3 linked regions of the Homo sapiens genome follow. The protein of the gene in region 3 interacts with the protein of the main gene of each other region in a pairwise test. Each region holds a gene or a part of one and is shown on either strand. Other genes may lie near its edges.

Region 1 (7,038 bases), on a different chromosome or scaffold from region 3:
CTTGCCTCAGCCTCCCAAGCAGCTAAGACTACAGGTGCATGCCACCACATCCAGCTAATTTAAAAAATTTTTTGTAGAGATGAGGTCTTGCTGTGTTGCCCAGGCTGGTCTGAACTCTTAGGCTCAAGTGATCATCTTGCCTCAGCCTCCTAAAGTGCTGGGATTACAAGTGTGAGCCACTGTGCCTAGCCTGGAAAGTCTTAACCCATAGGAACTTACTGATCACGAATGAATTCATTAAGATTACCATATGGCGAATATAAGAGTTAATACCTGAGACTTCACTTTTTGCACAGGTTACTAAAACCTGACTAGGCAAGAACAAGCTGCTAATTGCCCAAGAGCCACACACCCAAGGAAGCATAAACATATTTTCTTAGTTGCAGCAGCCTTCCTTAAAGAAAATGTGTCAAGGCTCCCAAAACCTATTGGGGAATTACTAGTATGAACACCCACTTTTGGTGATCACTATTAAAGTGGAAAGCAAATGAATCTCAACAAAAGCCCAAAAGAACAATGGTTAAAATCCTTATCCATTTCTTTCTGCAGAAATCCTATGCAGAAACAACTATGCATTCTGATGGACCTTCTGACATTATGTAGAATTTCACATAAGTCACATTTATGGAAGGGGGATTAAAAGGGAAATATTCCTGGGCGGGCGTGGTGGCTCACGCCTGTAATCCCAGCACTTTGGGAGGGTGAGACGGGCAGATCACCTGAGGTCAGAAGTTTGAGACCAGCCTAACATGGAGAAACCCCATCTATACTAAAAATACAAAAAATTAGCCGGGCATGGTGGCGTGCGCCTGTAGTCCCAGCTACTCGGGAGGCTAAGGCAGGAGAATCGCTTGAACCCGGGAGGCAGAGGTTGTGGTGAGCCAAGATCACGCCATTGCACTCCAGCCTGGGCAACAGGAACAAAACTCCCTCTGAAAACAAAACAAAACCGAACAGGCAGGGGCCGGGTGCAGTGGCTCACGTCTGTAACCCCAGCACTTTAGGAGACCAAGGTGGGCAGATCACTTGAGGTCAGGAGTTTGAGACCATCCTGGCCAACATGGCGAAATCGTCTCTACTAAAAAAAAGAAAATCAGCTGGGCATGGTGGCACACACCTGTAATCCCAACTACTCAGGAGGCTGAGGCAGGAGAATCACTTCAACCTGGGAGGTGGAGGTTGCAGTGAGCCAAGATCGTGCAAGACTCTGTCTCAACAATAACAAAAAAGGAACGGGTAGGAAAAAGCAGTCAGAAGCTATTCTCTATGGTCTTGCCAGCCAGCCTGCTCTAACAACTTCCAGTAAGATAGGTTTTCTGGACAGTTGACACATTAAGATTGAATAATTTTTTTTTCCTTTGAGACAGAGTCTCACTCTGTTGCCCATGCTGGAGTGCAATGGTGCAGTCATAGCTCACTGCAAGCTCAACTTCCCAAGCTCAAGTGATCCTCCCACGTTAGCCTCTTGAGTATCTGGGACCACAGGTGCACACCACCACCTCTGGCAATTTTTTTTTTTTTTAACGAGATGGGGTCTCACTATATTGCCCAGTCTGGTCGTGAACTCCTGGACTCAATTCATCCTCCCACCTTGTCCTCCCAATGACTTTTCATACCATAATTCTACCTTCTCCAACATAAATAGGTATCCTTAAATTAGTTTAAGAAGTTTATACCTAAATTTGTCACAGAAATGCCACCTGAGTTACTACTCAGTTTATAAAAGATACATTTAGTTATCAAATAAGATTTCTGTACTGGAAAAAGGGACCACCTGATTCCTGTTTCAACCTAGGATTTAAATCAGTTACTCTTTTCTCTGGGGATTGGCTTCAAGTCTTCTGATTATATCCAAGAAGGCTAGGATGACTCAAGTCAGTCACTTCAACTGCTTGTCCATTTTCCTGATTGTTTTAAAGGAAAGACAAACATGGCTGTACTGACTGCTATGACCAATTGGCCTACCAGCCACAAATTAGGATGGCCTCCCTTAAAGATCCCTGGAGACACTAATGACTACAATAATGCCACTTTGTAACTAGTCAAGGTTATGAGGAGTCCACATGGGGCCAGATGCAGTGGCTCACACCTGGAATTCCAGCACTTTAGGAGGCTGAGGCAGGAGGATCGCTTGAGGTCAGGAGTTGGAGACCAGCCTGGGCAACATAATGAGATCCTATCTCTACAAAGAAATGAAAAAATTAGCCATGTGTGGTGACACACACCTGTAGTCCTAGCTACTCAGGAGGCTGAGGTGGAAGGATCGCATGAATGCAGAGTTCGAGGCTGCAGTGAGTTAACTGTACCACTGCACTCCAGCCTGGATAACAGTGAGAGCCTGTCTCAAAAAAAAAAAAAAAAATTCCACATGAAGTTAAACTAAGATAATTCAACATTCACTTAACTTTAATACGCATGTTTAACACTGGTCAGTATCAAGCTGAATGTTCTGAGTGTCTCTGCTTTTATTCCCTGTCCAACTGGCAGGTGACAGTCATTTAATAAGGAATCAGTGGCAAAACACAGGAGCAAAGGAAGAACAGCATAACGTATGTATCCTTTATAAGATTAGTCTATTTGGCCGGGTGCGGTAGCTCACGCCTGTAATCCCAGCACTTTGGCAGGCCACGGCAGGTGGATCACTTGAGGTCAGGAGTTTGAGACCAACCTTACCAATATGGTGAAACCCCGTTTCTAATAAAAATACAAAAATTAGCTGGGCATCATGGCACGTGCCTGTAATCCCAGCTACTCAGGAGGCTGAGGCAGGAGAATTGCTTGAACCTGGGAAGCAGAGGTTGCAGTGAGCCAAGATTGCAACACTGCACTCCAGCCTGGGTGACAGAGTGAGACGCGGTCTCAAAAACAAACAAAAAAAAACAGATTAGTCTATTCACTTGACGAAAATAACATGGATGTGAGGCCAGGCGTGGTGGCTCACGCCTGTAATCAGAGCACTTTAGGAGGCCAAGGTGGGTGGATCATGAGATCAGGAGATCGAGACCATCCTGGCCAACATGGTGAAACCCCATCTCTACTAAAATGTAAAAAAAATTAGCTGGGCATGGAGGCACGCGCCTGTAGTCCCAGCTACTCAAGAGGCTGAGGTAGGGAAATTGCTTGAACCCGGGAGGCAGAGGTTGCAGTGAGCCGACATAGGGCCACTGCACTCCAGCCTGGCGACAGACAGAGACTCTGTCTCAAAACAAAAAAACAGAAAAGAAAACCACATGGATCTGAATAGTGGGATGGCCTAAAACATTTCTATTTTGTATTTCAAGCAGAAGATGGCATCACTAACAGAATAGCAGGTACTATATTCCAGAACTGGTGAACAAGGGCTTCTGGTGAAGAAAAAGTTGAATGAGCACCACTGCCAGGAGACGATCTTTTTTTTTTTTTTTTTTTTTTGAGACAGGGTCTCTTTTTGTTGCACAGGCTGTAGTGAAATGGCGCGATGATGGCTCACTGCAGCCTCAAACGATTCTCTCACCTCAGTCCCCTGTGTAGCTGAGACTACAGGCAATACGCCACCATACCTAGCTAATTTTTAAATTTTTTTTGTAGTGACAGGGTCTTGTCATCCTGCCCAGGCTGGTCTTGAACTCCTGGGCTCAAGCAATCCTCCCATCTCAGTCTCCCTAACTGCTGGGATTACAAGTGTGAGCCACCACACCCAGCGAGCAGGTGATCATTTCTTAAGCCAATGGTTCTCAAACTTGAACCAGAGCCAGAATCCCCTGAAGAGCTTGTTAAATGCAGACGGTTAAGCTCTACTCCCCAAGTTTCTCCTTTAATACCACTGAGAAGAGGCCTGAGATTTGTATTTCTAACAAGTTACCAGATGATGCTAATGCTAGTTCAGGGAGCACACTTTGAGAACCACTGTCTAAACCACTCTTAAACCATAACTTTCAGGTGAGACCCCACTCTATAACCTCCAAAAGTCCTTCAACATGATCCGATCACTTTAAAAATGCATACTTAGATACTACCAAAATATAGCTTTTGGTCTTAGGAATGTGGCCTAGAAAACAGACCAGCATTTATAACTTAGGGGTTCAAGACCCTCAGGGTAACAGGTGCATATGATAAACCCATTTATAACCATCCCACAATGAGATTTAGGAGTAGGTCTGAATGCACCCAATGTGACTCTAACTTGAGGTCCTAAAATATTCTTCGAAGCACAATGAACATCATCTGAACCCCAAAGAATAACTATGCATCTGAGTTACTTGACACCACCAACACCATTTATCAAGTTCTCTAAGGAAGACCAAAGCCTTGATACTTAAAGTATAGTCAGTGGACCAGCAGCATGTGCACCACTTGGGAGTGGGTTAAAAAGTAGAATCTTCAGGACCACCCCTGCTTACCACTCAGAATTCCTTTCCCAAGGCCTAAAGGTGATCCCCCAGGCATATTAACATTTGCGAAACAAGCTAACTAAAGGATGTCTTCACACAAAAGGAAACTCTGGTACATTACTCTGAAAAGCACCTGACCAAAACATTTATACTTCTTCTACTCATGGGGGAAAAACAAAAACTCTTCGAATTCTGAACAACAAACTACTAACATTATCCCAGAAAGCAACTGAACACTAAACTAAGAAGGGTCAATGGTTAAGGGGCCCTCTCATCTGGCCAACGTGTTTTTTTGACCCTGTAAGTAAACATACACAGCTACAAGTTTCCACAGAATACACCACCTATTTAAAAAAAAAAAAAAATCACCGGCCGGCTCACACCTGTAATCCCAGCAGTTTGGGAAGCCAAGGTGGGCGGATCACCTGAGGTCGGGAGTTTGACACCAGCCTGACCAACATGGAGAAACCCTGTCACTACTAAAAAGACAAAAATTAGCCGGGCGTGGTGGCGCATGCTTGTAATCCCAGCTACTCAGGAAGGTGAAGCAGGAGAATAGGTTGAACCTGGGGCGGAGGTTGCGGTGAGCGGAGATGGCGCCATTGCACTCCAGCCTGGGCAACAAGAGTGAAACTCCACCTCAAAATCACCAGTGAAAACAGTTTCCCTCTACTGCTTCTAGATCTTCTAGCCCGTGAACTTGAAGTGGCAGAAACATCATTAAAGTCTATTTATTCCAGTACTTTGATCTCAGTACATAGACAAGGAAGAAGGATGGTTTGAATATTATTCCAGTTGTGGAACTAACATATTTATTATAGTGCTAGGAACACATAATCATTTCAAGCTCTCTTTAAAGGGAGAAGACTTCTTTATCCCCAAGTCCCGCATAGAATTACTAGAGTGTTGAAAACCATGAAAGCACTACCCTAACACTGCCTAAACACTATCCTAAAATTGTCATTAACTAAATCCTCTTAAGAGTAGAAAGTAAACCTATTTCCAATTAATTTGGTAGAAAAGACTTAAATCTAAGCTCCACTGTCATTAAGCTAAAAAATGCTTTTAACCAGTTCTTCAAGGCACATTTATCTACGTATGACAGAATTCTGAGGCTGGACTGTCAAAAATGGACAATACTGAGGTTCTTAATCTTTACTGCAAAGAAACATAAGTCCTACCCTAAGAAAGAGAAATATCTCCCTAAAAATGATGTAAGCATAAAGATAGAAACATACACAAAGATGAAATATACATGTTAACCTCTGATCGGTGTGTGAAAGTGATTCAAAAGCCTCTCTGCCTGGACTCTACCAGTAGACTACTGGTTAGAACTTTAGTGAAAAAAATACTGGAAAGGGTGGGTGTGGTGGCTCACACCTATAATCCCAGCACTTTGGAAGGCTGAGGTGGGTGGATCACCTGAGGTCAGGAGTTCAAGACAGGACTGACCAACATACAAAATTAGCCAGGCATGGTGGTGCATGCCTGTAATCCCACCTACTCAGGAGGCTGAGGCAGGAGAATTGCTTGAACCCGGGAAGCGGAGGTTGCAGTGAGCCAAGATCGTGCCATTGCACTCCAGCCTGAGCAGCAGGAGTGAAACTCCATCTCAAAAAAATAAAAATAAAAGTACTGGAAGGGGCCAGGCTCGGTGGCTCACACCTATAATCCCAGCACTTTGGGAGGCCTAGGTGGGTGGATCACCTGAGCTCAGGAGTTCAACACCAGCAACACAGTGAAACCGTCTCTACTAAAAATACAAAAAAAAATAGGCCAGGTGCAGTGGCTCACACCTATAATTCCAGCATTTTGGGGGGCCGAGGCGGGTGGATCACCTGAGGTCAGGAGTTCGAGACCAGCGAGGTCAGGAGTTTGAGACCAGCCTGGCCAACATGGCAAAACCCTGTCTCTACTAAAAATACAAAAATGAGCTGGGCGTGGTGGCACATGCCTGTAATCCCAGCTACTTGGGAGGCTGAGGCAGCAGAATCACTTGAACCCCGGAGGCGGAGACTGCAGTGAGCCGAGATAGCATCATTGCACTCCAGCCTCGGCGACAAGAGCGAAACTCCGTCTCAAAAAAAAAAAAATAAAAATAAAAATAAAAATACAAAAACAAAATTAGCTGGGTGTGGCAGCGTGCACCTGTAGTCCCAGCTACTTGGGAGGCTGAGGCAGGAGAATCGCTTGAACCAGGGAGGCAGAGGTTGCAGTGAGCCGAGATTGCACCACTACACTCCAGCCTGGGCGACACAGTGAGACTCCGGCTCAAAAAAAATAATAAACAAAAAGTACTGGAAGGGGGCCAGGTGCAGTGGCTCACACGTGTAATCCCAGCACTTTGGGAGGCTGAGGCAGGTGAATCACTTGAGTTCAGGATTTCAAGACCAGCCTGGCCAACATGGCAAGATCCCGTCTCCACTAAAACTACAAAAATTAGCTGGGCATGGTGGCGCACGCCTGTAGTCCCAGCTACTTGGGAGGCTGATGCAGGATAATCACTTGAACCCAGGAGGCAGAGGCTAGTGAATCAAGATCGCACCATTGCACTCTGGTGATAGAGCGAGACTCCGTCTCAAAGAAACAAAAAAATAAGTACTGGAACGGCTGGGCGCAGTGGCTCACGCCTGTGATCCCAGCACTTTGGGAGGCCAAGGCGGGCAGA
Region 2 (3,298 bases), on a different chromosome or scaffold from region 3:
TGTCTGTCATACTTAGGTTTTTAAAAGTAAGGTAACAAAGTTGACTCTGTGTGTGTGTGTGTGTGTGTGTGTGTGTGTGTGTGTGTGTGAAGGCCAGAAATGAAACACTTAACTTGCCATGGGTTTTGCCGATGAGTATGGTCATTATGTTTATGTTATCTGTCACTAGATGGTTGGACTCTACCTCTTCCTATAATTCCTGCTCTATGCCTTTGAAAGAGAGAATAATACTTAAAAACAATTGACAAATGGGTTTGAGTAGCAGAATTTTTGAGGTATAATCTTTTTTAAAAAAATTTTTTTTTGAGATGGGGGTCTCACTATATTGCCCAGGCTGGCTTCAAACTCCTGGGCTCAAACGATCCTCCTGCGTCAGCCTCCTGAGTAGCTGGGACTACAGGCATGCACTACTGTGCCCAGCAAATGGCAGAAATTTTGGATTTGACTTTTTTTTTTTTTTTGAGATGGAGTCTCACTCTGTCACCCAGGCTGGAGTGTGGTGGCGTGATCGCGGCTCACTGCAAGCTCCGCCTTCTGGGTTCACGCCATTCTCCTGCCTCAGCCTCCTGAGTAGCTGGGACTACAGGCGCCCGCCACCACGCCTGGCTAATTTTTTGTATTTTTAGTAGAGATGGGGTTTCACCGTGTTAGCCAGGATGGTCTCGATCTCCTGACCTTGTGATCCGCCCACCTCGGCCTCCCAGAGTGCTGGGATTACAGGCGTGAGCCACCGCGCCCGGCCAAAAAACCATAACTTTTAAAACTGCAAAATGTCTTTTTGATTCTTCACATTCCTGCCCTCCAAAAAATGTTTTGGAAAAGACCTTTAAGACCATAGTTTACTATCAGTTTCAAATCTTTCTAGTAGTAACAGTGTTTTAAATTTACTTTATTATTGAATGTCAATGAAAAAATTTAACTTGTCTTCTGTTCCAGTGCCTCAATATTCTGGATCTCTTGATTTCAATCTAGTTATACATTTCCCCCCCAACATGAGCTTCCTTTCAAATACCACTAAAAACAACTATTGCACTATTGCATTGTTTACTAAGTGTCAATTCTGTGGGTTTTTTTGTTTGTTTTTGTTTTTTTGGAGGCGGAGTCTCACTCTGTCACCAGGCTGGAGTGCAGTGGCGCAGTCTCGGCTCACTGCAACCTCTACCTCCTGGGTTCAAGCGATCCTCCTGCCTCAGCCTCCTGAGTAGCTGGGACTACAGGCATGCACCACCATGCCCAGCTAATTTTTTGTATTTTTAGTAGAGATGGGGTTTCACTATGTTGGCCAGGATGATCTCTATCTCTTGACCTCATGTTCCGCCCGCCTCAGCCTCCCAAAGTGTTGGGATTACAGGCGTGAGCCACCGCGCCCAACCACTGAGTGTCAATTCTTAGCATAGCTCAACACACATCTGCATTTCCAAAACCTTATATGGTATGAGGCATCATGAGAGAAAGACCAGAATAAGCAATTTTGTTATCATGGTTGTCAAAGGTAAGAAGCCTGAGGCTAACGATAGATAATAGTGCTGGTGAGTATTCCAGTCACAAGCTCCCTTTCCTGTTCCTTGTGGGTGGGGACTGGGCAGTGGGAAAAGAGCAGAGGAATACATGAAGTGTTTGCAGAAAGGAACTTTCCAAACCCCAAAGAGGAGGCATTAACTTGCTCTGTTAGTCTGTATGCAAGGCAATATGTGGGCAAGATCTAATTCCTTGTTTGTGTTTTTCTGCTGCAGTACATGCCCTTACAGTCGGCCTCCCTTTGGCTATGGAAATTTTCCGAGTTCAATGCCAGAATGCCTTAGTTATTATGAAGACAGGTACCCAAAACATGAGGGTATCTTTTCAACTTTAAATAGAGACTATTCTTTTAGAGACTACTCAAGTGAATGCACACACAGTGAAAATTCTCGGAGTTGTGAGAACATGAATGGAACTTCTTACTATAACAGTCATAGCCACAGTGGGGAAGAAAACTTAAACCCTGTGCCTCAGCTGGACATTGGAACCTTGGAGAATGTCTTCACAGCCCCGACATCAACTCCTTCTAGCATCCAGCAAGTCAATGTCACCGACAGTGATGAGGAGGAAGAAGAAAAAGTGCTCAGGGATTTATAATTTTAAAACAAATATGCACAGAAAATAAACATTTCTTAAAATATATTCTGGGTCAGTTGGTATGAGAAAAAAAAAAGCCTAGAATTCTTTGTTGAAAGTTTTCAGTCGTGATTTGAGGAGTTAAAACCAAATGCAATTTATGTCTTCATAAAATTTTGATTAGTGAAACTAGAGTCTGGATGTTTCATTGTAGGAATATTTAAGTTATTAAGTAGTTTAATTTTAATGGCTGAAATTTGCATCAACATGTATTATTATTACTTTATCCTGGAACATGCAAAATACTGAAGCCTCACAGTTGTATGTGAGGGGAAAGGGGAAATAAATCTAGCATAGTGTGATTTTTATTTTATCTCAGGATACATTTTTTAAATGATTTTTTGTTTGCTTTTTATGTAATACTTATGGATGTTGTCAATTTTTGATGTAACATTTTGAAAGTATTTTGACAACTCCTAGTGAACTTGGACTTGGTTGCTAAATTTAACTTACACTAATAACCAATTATAAGTTCCAAATGTGTTTTAATGGCACCTGGGTGATTCTTCAGCTAAATTTAGTCATTTCTGTTTCTAAATATTTTTATCATTTTAAAATATTTTTTTTCCATTTGGCATACATCGTTCTTTGTTGTAATTAAATAAACATAGATAAAATTGTTCTTGTTGGATGTTTTCTGTTTGCGGGATAGAAGTAAGCAAACAGAGTATTTTTCATAGAAGATTGTTTTCTATACCATATACAGATAATTCATTTTTACCTATAGTCTCCAGAATTGCATAGATTCTATTAGCTCACACGAGACTTAAACATGTATCAACAAAGTTGCCCACACATTCTGATGCCATTTCCAAACTCTTTACACATACGTACACATGACTTAAGCACATCCCAGAATGGAAGAGCTCTTCCAGATTTGGCTCAAGCAGCTGTCTTGAAAACCATGAAGTTTATTTAAGAGCATAAGGAATTTATTTAATTCACGATGAACAAAAAAACCCTACCTGTGACATAACCTCCTGGTAAGTACCCAGTTAGGGATTGAGAAGGCCTTTTTAGAACAGTATCAGGACTATGAAAGTTGAGATCATGGTAAAAGATCTCTAAGGTACAAAGTGAATTGATGATGGGAAATAGTCACCAACCAATACGCTTTTCCCTCAGTGATCTATATAATTTATGC
Region 3 (7,038 bases):
ATTAACATATTTCTAAGTACTTGTTCACTGTGGAAATGTGTACTTGATTAAAACATATATGGCTATGGAATCTGCTTTTGCAGTTCAGGATATACAGGTTTGTGTGTATTTAGCTTATTGTAAAGCCCTTACCTTAAAATAAGGATTAAAATTACATTTAAATAGATCACTGAATGTTACTCTTTGTGAAACTGAACTTTTTGTATGACACAAACATTATAAATCAACACTTGGGAAACTTTAACTTTCTTAATCTATTGATACAAGGAATAAAGTATGAAAAATTAAACAGAAAAAAGTCGCATTGAAGAATGCAGAAAATCTTAAAAGTCAGAGCATTGAAAGAAAAACAATATATTTGATACAACAATCATGGTCTGAAAATAAGTTGCTAAACACTGAATTTGAAATAATTATATTTGGCCAGGCACGGTGGCTCACGCCTGTAATCCCAGCACTTTGGGAGGCTGAGGTAGGCGGATCATGAGGTCAGGAGATCGAGACCATCCTGGCTAACACGGTGAAACCCCATCTCCACTAAAAATAAAAAAATTAGCTGGGCGTGGTGGCACCTGCCTATGTCCCAGCTACTCGGGAGGCTGAGGCAGGAGAATCACTTGAACTCGGGAGGCGGAGGTTGCAGTGAGCCAAGATCGAGCCACTGCACTCCAGCTTGGGCAACAGAGCGAGACTCTGTCCCAAAAAAATAAAAAAAAATAATTATATTTATTCTTACTATGTGCTAAGCACCACATTAAATACTTACAAATACAAAAAGGGATAAGTACAAATGAGAAAATCAAAGAATAGTAAGGTAAGTAAATTGTCTAAGTATATGCAGCTAATAAGGGGTAGCAATCTTGGTGGATCCCAAACCATCTGAGCCCACAGCCCAGCTCTTAACCATTATACTGTGTTGCCCAAGATGTCACCAGAAATGGTTGTGGTGTGGGTTTATCAGTATAGCATAAAAGAATGACATCTATTTGAAGAGAAAAAGGTGCATCTGAATTCTCAGACATCTGTATGTAGCCTAATTATATGCTTTCTAGACTCTTTTAAATGACAAAAATAATTACTTCATGAGTACTATCAACTATTATCATTGTATTACAACTAACAAATTTTTATTCATAAATGTAACGTGTATCCTGTTTAATTTTACCCATACTGCTGTTTAAGCTTTACTCCTCCTCCTGCTTTATTCCTCCATACACTATTATCTATTATATCAAATAGGTCTCTTGTCTACCCTCATAGAGTTTTTTCCCCCTTGCTTGTTAAGTTTTGTTTTAGGAATCAATACGAAAATGCAGTCTTTAAAGTCTTTTAAGATTTATGCAACAGCAACAAGAAACAGGAATACATTTGCATACGTTCTCCAAAATAAAAGTTGCATTCGACATGCAATACTTATTAAAACCTACAATTAAAAATATCCTAAGGCTGGGCCGGGCGCGGTGGCTCACGCCTGTAATCCCAGCACTTTGGGAGGCGGAGGCGGGTGGATCACGAGGTCAAGAGATAAGAGACCTTCCTAGCTAACACGGTGAAACCCCATCTCTACTAAGAGTACAAAAAATTAGCCGGACGTGGTGGCGGGCGCCTGTAGTCCCAGCTACTCGAGAGGCTGAGGCAGGAGAATGGCGTGAACCCGGGAGGCGGAGCTTGCAGTGAGCGGAGATCACGCCACTGCACCCCAGCCTGGGCGACAGAGCGAGACTCCGTCTCAAAAAAAAAAAAGAAAAATAAAAAAATAAAAATAAAAAAATATTCTAAGGCTGGGCGCAGTGGCTCACGCCTGTAATCCCAGCACTTTGGGAGGCTGAGGCAGGTGGATCACTTGAGGCCAGGAGTTCGAGACCAGGCTGGCCAAGATGGTGAAACCCCGTCTCTACTAAAAATACAAAAAAATTAGCCAGGCGTGGTGGCGCGTGTCTGTAGTCCCAGCTACCAAGAAGGCTGAGGTAGAAGAATCGCTTGAACCCTGGAGACAGAGGTAAACCGAGATTGCACCACCGCACTCCAGCCTGGGTGACAGAGCGAGACCCTGTCTGAAAAAGAAAAAAAATACTCTAGACCCCTCCCCCAAGCTGTAGTTGCAGGATCCATTCAGAGTAGGCACACAGAGCTTCTTGCTTTTTTTCTAATAATGTCCTAGAAATTACTCTACTTACATTTTACTAAAAAGAATTTATTCACAATCATCTGGAGTTGTTTTTTTGTTTGTTTTGTTTTTTTTTTTTTGAGACAGAGTCTCACTCTGTGGCCCAGGCTAGAGTGCAGTGGTGCAATCTCAGCTCACTGCAGCCTCCACCCTCCGCGTTCAAGCGATTCTCCTGCCTCAGCCTCCCAAGTAGCTGGGATTACAGGTGCCTGCCACTGCACCGGGCTAATTTTTTGTATTTTTAGTAGAGACGGGGTTTCACCATCTTGGTCAGGCTGGTCTTGAACTCCTGACCTCATGATCAACCTGCCTCGGCCTCCCAAAGTGCTGGGATTACAGGCGTGAGCCACCGCACCCGGCCTTTTTTTTTTTTTTTTTTCGAGATGGAGTTTCGCTCTCGTTGTCCAAGCTGGAGTGCAATGGTGTGATCTTGGCTCATTGCAACCTCTGCCTCCCGGATTCAAGAAATTCTCCTGCCTCAGCCTCTCGAGTAGCTGGGATTACAGGCTCGCACCACCATGCCTGGCTAATTTTTTGTACTTTTAGTAGAAATGGGGTTTCACCATGTTAGCCAGGCTGGTCTTGAACTCCTGACCTCAGGTGATCCGCCTGCCTCGGCCTCCCAAAGTGCTGGGATTACAGGTGTGAGCCACCACGCCCGGCCCATCTAGAGTTTTTAATTATAATATTAGTCCTCTAAAAATGCTATCACTTAAAAAAATTTTATCATAACATTCAAATGTTTGGCAAAAGCATGTGATCCCAGCATGTTTCTTTGTCTTCTTCCCCTTCCCCCTACCTTTTAAACACTTTTTATAAGTTCCTCATACTTTCTTCCACGGACAATTTTCAACAAGTCTAGTCAAACTTATAGAAGCAGAAATTAGAATGGAATCTCTGATGTTTAATGTTCTTATTACAACAGAAATAAAATATAATAAAACAAGCACAAATTCCACCTAACTGATTTTTTTACTTGCCTTATCAAGAAAAATCAAGAAGCCCTGTGTTGTGTGTCTGTGAATGGGCCCTGCAAAAATAGCTTGGGGGGAAATAACTCTACAAAAATCTTGACTTACAGGTTTTAACAAATGTGCTGTCAAACGCAGCTCTTACTTGCACAATAACATGCAGCTTTCCCTCTTTGGTGTCTGCCTTGCACTTTAAAAGCCCATGGAAGATGGAATTTTATTCTCTCAGTTAAGAGTCAACAAAACTACGATCATCACTCCCTTTTCTTTTCTAGAATATTTCAATGTGTTCACTGCAGAAGATAAAGGCCTGATTAAAACAAAATAATTCACTATCTTACCCAGGCTATATATTGGATTTTTTTTTTCTTTTTGAGACAGTGTCTCACTCTGTCGCCCAGGCTGGAATGCAGTGGCACGATCTCAGCTCACTGCAACCTCTGTCTCCTGGGTTCAAGCGATTCTCCTGCCTCAGTCTCCTGAATAGCTGGGATTACAGGCACCCACCACTATGCCCGGCTAATTTTTGTATTTTTAGTAGAGACGGGGTTTCACCATGTTGGCCAGGCTGGTCTCGAACTTCTGACCTCAGGTGATCTGCCTGCCTCAGCCTCCCAAAGTGCTGGGATTATAGGCGTGAGCCACCACGCTCGGCCTATATTGGATTTTTAAAATGTTCACATAAACTGAAACTTTGATGAGAGAATTTTTAAAAATCAAAATTGCTACTTTAAAATTTTTAATTAGTTCAAATAATGTGACTTTAAAACGAATATTCATAGATTTTAATATAGGAAAAATCTTGGCTAATTTTAAATTGATGCAGTTTATAATCTAGAGATAATACTGATTAAACCAATATCCATTTCATAATAATCAACCTTAATTGTCACTAAGACTGATGGGGAAGGACTGAATAGTTTAAAAACAAAACAAAACAAAACAAAAAAGACTGTTTGAGCAGAGAATCAGAAAGTTAAGAAAACTCATCCTGATCCTGACTAAAGTCAGTACAAAACAGCCATAAAGAGTGCTTGGATAAGAAAATTAACTTTCTCAACAACGTGAGCAGCAAGGAGCTTGGAAATGAGATACTGTATGGAAAAATAAAAGCTCTTCAGCTTGTTCCACTAGACAAATGAAATCACAGCTGTTCAGCTAAGGCCCTAACAATGATGATGATGATAATCATAAACAACATCATCATCACTTTATTGAGCCGTTGCACCAGGCACTATGCCGCCTTATTTACATGGTGAAGACTATGAATAACCCCATTTTACAGATACGGAAACCAAGGCACAGGGAAGTTAAGCAGCTTCCTTACGGACACAGATTTAGTAAGTGGCAAAGTCATGATTAGAATTCATGTAGTCTGGTTGCAAAGACCACACTCATCATTTCTACATTTTACTCACTGTCCTCTCCAGCTGTGAGAAGTAGAACGCCAATGAGAATTTAAGACTTAGTTGGTGGATTCATGATTGCAAGCTATGAGAAGATTCTATATAATGAATGACATCTTCTGCAACATCCTTACAGTTGTGTGACAGTTTCTCAAGGTTCTTTCTTATAATATCACCTCTGAATACAGGTGACAAATGTGAATGTGAAGTTCTACTCCTGTGGACTCACATGCACTTCAAAATAAATTGATTACAAAATCCCCTTAGTAGCTGACTAGTTAACATAAGGCTGATAGCCACAAGGTAATGTAAAGGGAAATATCCACCCCAAGAGTGTGACTTGGTTTTTATTATTATTTATTTATTTATTCTTTTTAGAGATGGGGTCTTCCTTGGCTACCCAAGCTGGAGTGCAGTGGCATAGCCAAAGCTTACTGTATCCTCAAGCTCCTGGGCTCAAGCAATTCTCCTACCTTAGCCTCCCAAGTAGCTGGGATTACAGGTTAGTACCACCATGCTTGGCTAATTTTATTTTTTGTAGAGACAGGGTCTTGTAATGTTGCCCAGGCTGGTCTTGAATTCTTGGCCTCAAGCAGTTCTCTAACCTCAGCCTCCCAGCTAGGATCCTTCCTCCTGAAGACAATTAGATAGGCTAGTTGTGAGGACAACCCCTAGTTTGAATGAAGTCATGTCATCAGAACAGCTAGGTAAGGAGAGAGGACAGACCAAGTGCATCCAATAGAAGGACCAAGTCATTACAATGCAAGTTAAAAAGAAGAGGTGGTCAGAATACATCCTATTCTATCCCTCAAGAAATTAGCATTCACTCATACAAAAGACAGTTCCACTAACCGAGAATCTCATAGTTACTGGAAAACAGAGGTTGTGTAAAAGTAAACGGTGACAAGTGGGAACATAACCTGCCATCATGCAGTAATTAACAGACTGTGTTTCTTACAACCCTAGAGTGTCAAGGGGATATCCCTTAGTGAAAAGGTCCTCCAGTCCCTTTATGTAGATATCTGTTTTATATTTGTAAGATTCTGAGTAAGTTTCTATCTGACAGAAAGGTCACTGCTACTTTTTAAAAAGTTTATAACCACCACTTTACCATATTTTTCAACTCTCTAGGGATACTGTTTGGCTTGTTCATTAGATCTAAAAACACCAGATATAAAAATCTTATCTGGCTAGGTATGGTGGCTTATGCCTGTTACCCCAGCACTTTGGGAAGCTGAGGCAGGAGGATTGCTTGAGGCCAGATGTTCAAGACCAGCCTGGACAACATAGCAAGACTCCAATCTATATTTAAAAAAAAAACAAAAAAAAAAACAAACGTTTTTTTGAGTCAGGGTCAGGGTCTCCCTCTGTCAGAGTGCAGTGGTGTGATCTTGGCTCACTGCAACCTCTGCCTCCTGGGCTCAAGTGATCCTCCCACCTCAGCCTCTTGAGTAGCTGGGAATACAGGCACATGTCACTGTGCCCGGCTAAGTTTTGTACTTTTTGTAGAGATGGGGTTTTGCCATGTTGGCCAGGCTGATTTTGAACTCTTGGGCTCAAGCGATCTGTCCACCTTTGCCTCCCAAAGTGCTAGGATTACAGACATGAGCCACTCTGCCTGGCCTACAAAAAACCTTTAAAAAAATATTTTGTACCAGTTGTTACAGTGAGAACAAATAATTACACAAAAATTATTTGAAAGGCAACTACCTGCCAAACAATGTTACATACTTGCTCTGAACTAAAATAAACATAGTATTACTTACATATACACCACTGTTTAACTACAGCATGCTAACAATCATATTATCAAGTACCAATGAAAAAATACAAATTCAACTTCTACCAAAATATTTTCATTAAAATCAAAACCCAACTTTTCTGTTTCTATTTTGATTCCTAACTCTACCAAAGCAATATAAACCGAGCAGTTACTGAGGTTTTCTCCTTAATTAGTGACCTGGTTCTACCTGATGTGGCCTTATATAAAGAGATTGCATTATATAGAAAAGGTCAGGTCTTATGAACTTAACTCACCAAAATGATCTGAAGGAAGACCTCATATTGTCGTATATTATATAGCGCTTCTTTTAACATATATGGCTGAAGTTCAGCCCTCATGAGTGGGTCGTTGGCTGCCTTCTCAAGGATGGCTGTGTAGCGGTATACCTGGCTCCGGGCAGTCTCAAGCTGGTAATCAATATGCTGCATGGTGGCTGGGATTGCTACATGGAGAACAGCTGGCACTGTTTGTAAGAGTATGAAAAGGCAGCCATAAAGGAGACTAAAAACAATTAAGGAGAAGAAGCCTAGAAAGTAGTTACATTTTAAACATTAAGTTAGGGTTTTTCTCCCCAATCAAATTAGTAATAATGAGGCATGTGTTTCCTGGGTCCCACAACATAAAGAAAATCTAGGCCGGGGGTGGTGGCTCACACCTGTAATCCTAGCACTTTGGGAGGCCGAGGCGGGCGGATCACGAGGTCAAGAGATT

The links. Proteins that work in one complex are often made in the same cells at the same time.
Region 1: the proteins of CFAP206 (region 3) and EIF4ENIF1 interact in binary tests that used the Homo sapiens proteins (3 or more experiments, as listed by UniProt).
Region 2: the proteins of CFAP206 (region 3) and SOX30 interact in binary tests that used the Homo sapiens proteins (3 or more experiments, as listed by UniProt).

What each region holds. Positions count from the first base shown.
Region 1 is NC_000022.11:31,479,821-31,486,858, forward strand, and holds part of EIF4ENIF1 (eukaryotic translation initiation factor 4E transporter), read right to left. Parts: intron 1-7,038. UniProt on the Homo sapiens protein: EIF4E-binding protein that regulates translation and stability of mRNAs in processing bodies (P-bodies). Plays a key role in P-bodies to coordinate the storage of translationally inactive mRNAs in the cytoplasm and prevent their degradation.
Region 2 is NC_000005.10:157,625,157-157,628,454, reverse strand, and holds the end of SOX30 (transcription factor SOX-30), read left to right. Parts: intron 1-1,733; coding exon 1,734-2,115; 3' UTR 2,116-2,776; downstream 2,777-3,298. UniProt on the Homo sapiens protein: Acts both as a transcriptional activator and a repressor. Binds to the DNA sequence 5'-ACAAT-3' and shows a preference for guanine residues surrounding this core motif. Binds to its own promoter and activates its own transcription.
Region 3 is NC_000006.12:87,417,960-87,424,997, reverse strand, and holds part of CFAP206 (cilia- and flagella-associated protein 206), read right to left. Parts: intron 6,791-7,038; coding exon 6,582-6,790; intron 1-6,581. UniProt on the Homo sapiens protein: Essential for sperm motility and is involved in the regulation of the beating frequency of motile cilia on the epithelial cells of the respiratory tract. Required for the establishment of radial spokes in sperm flagella.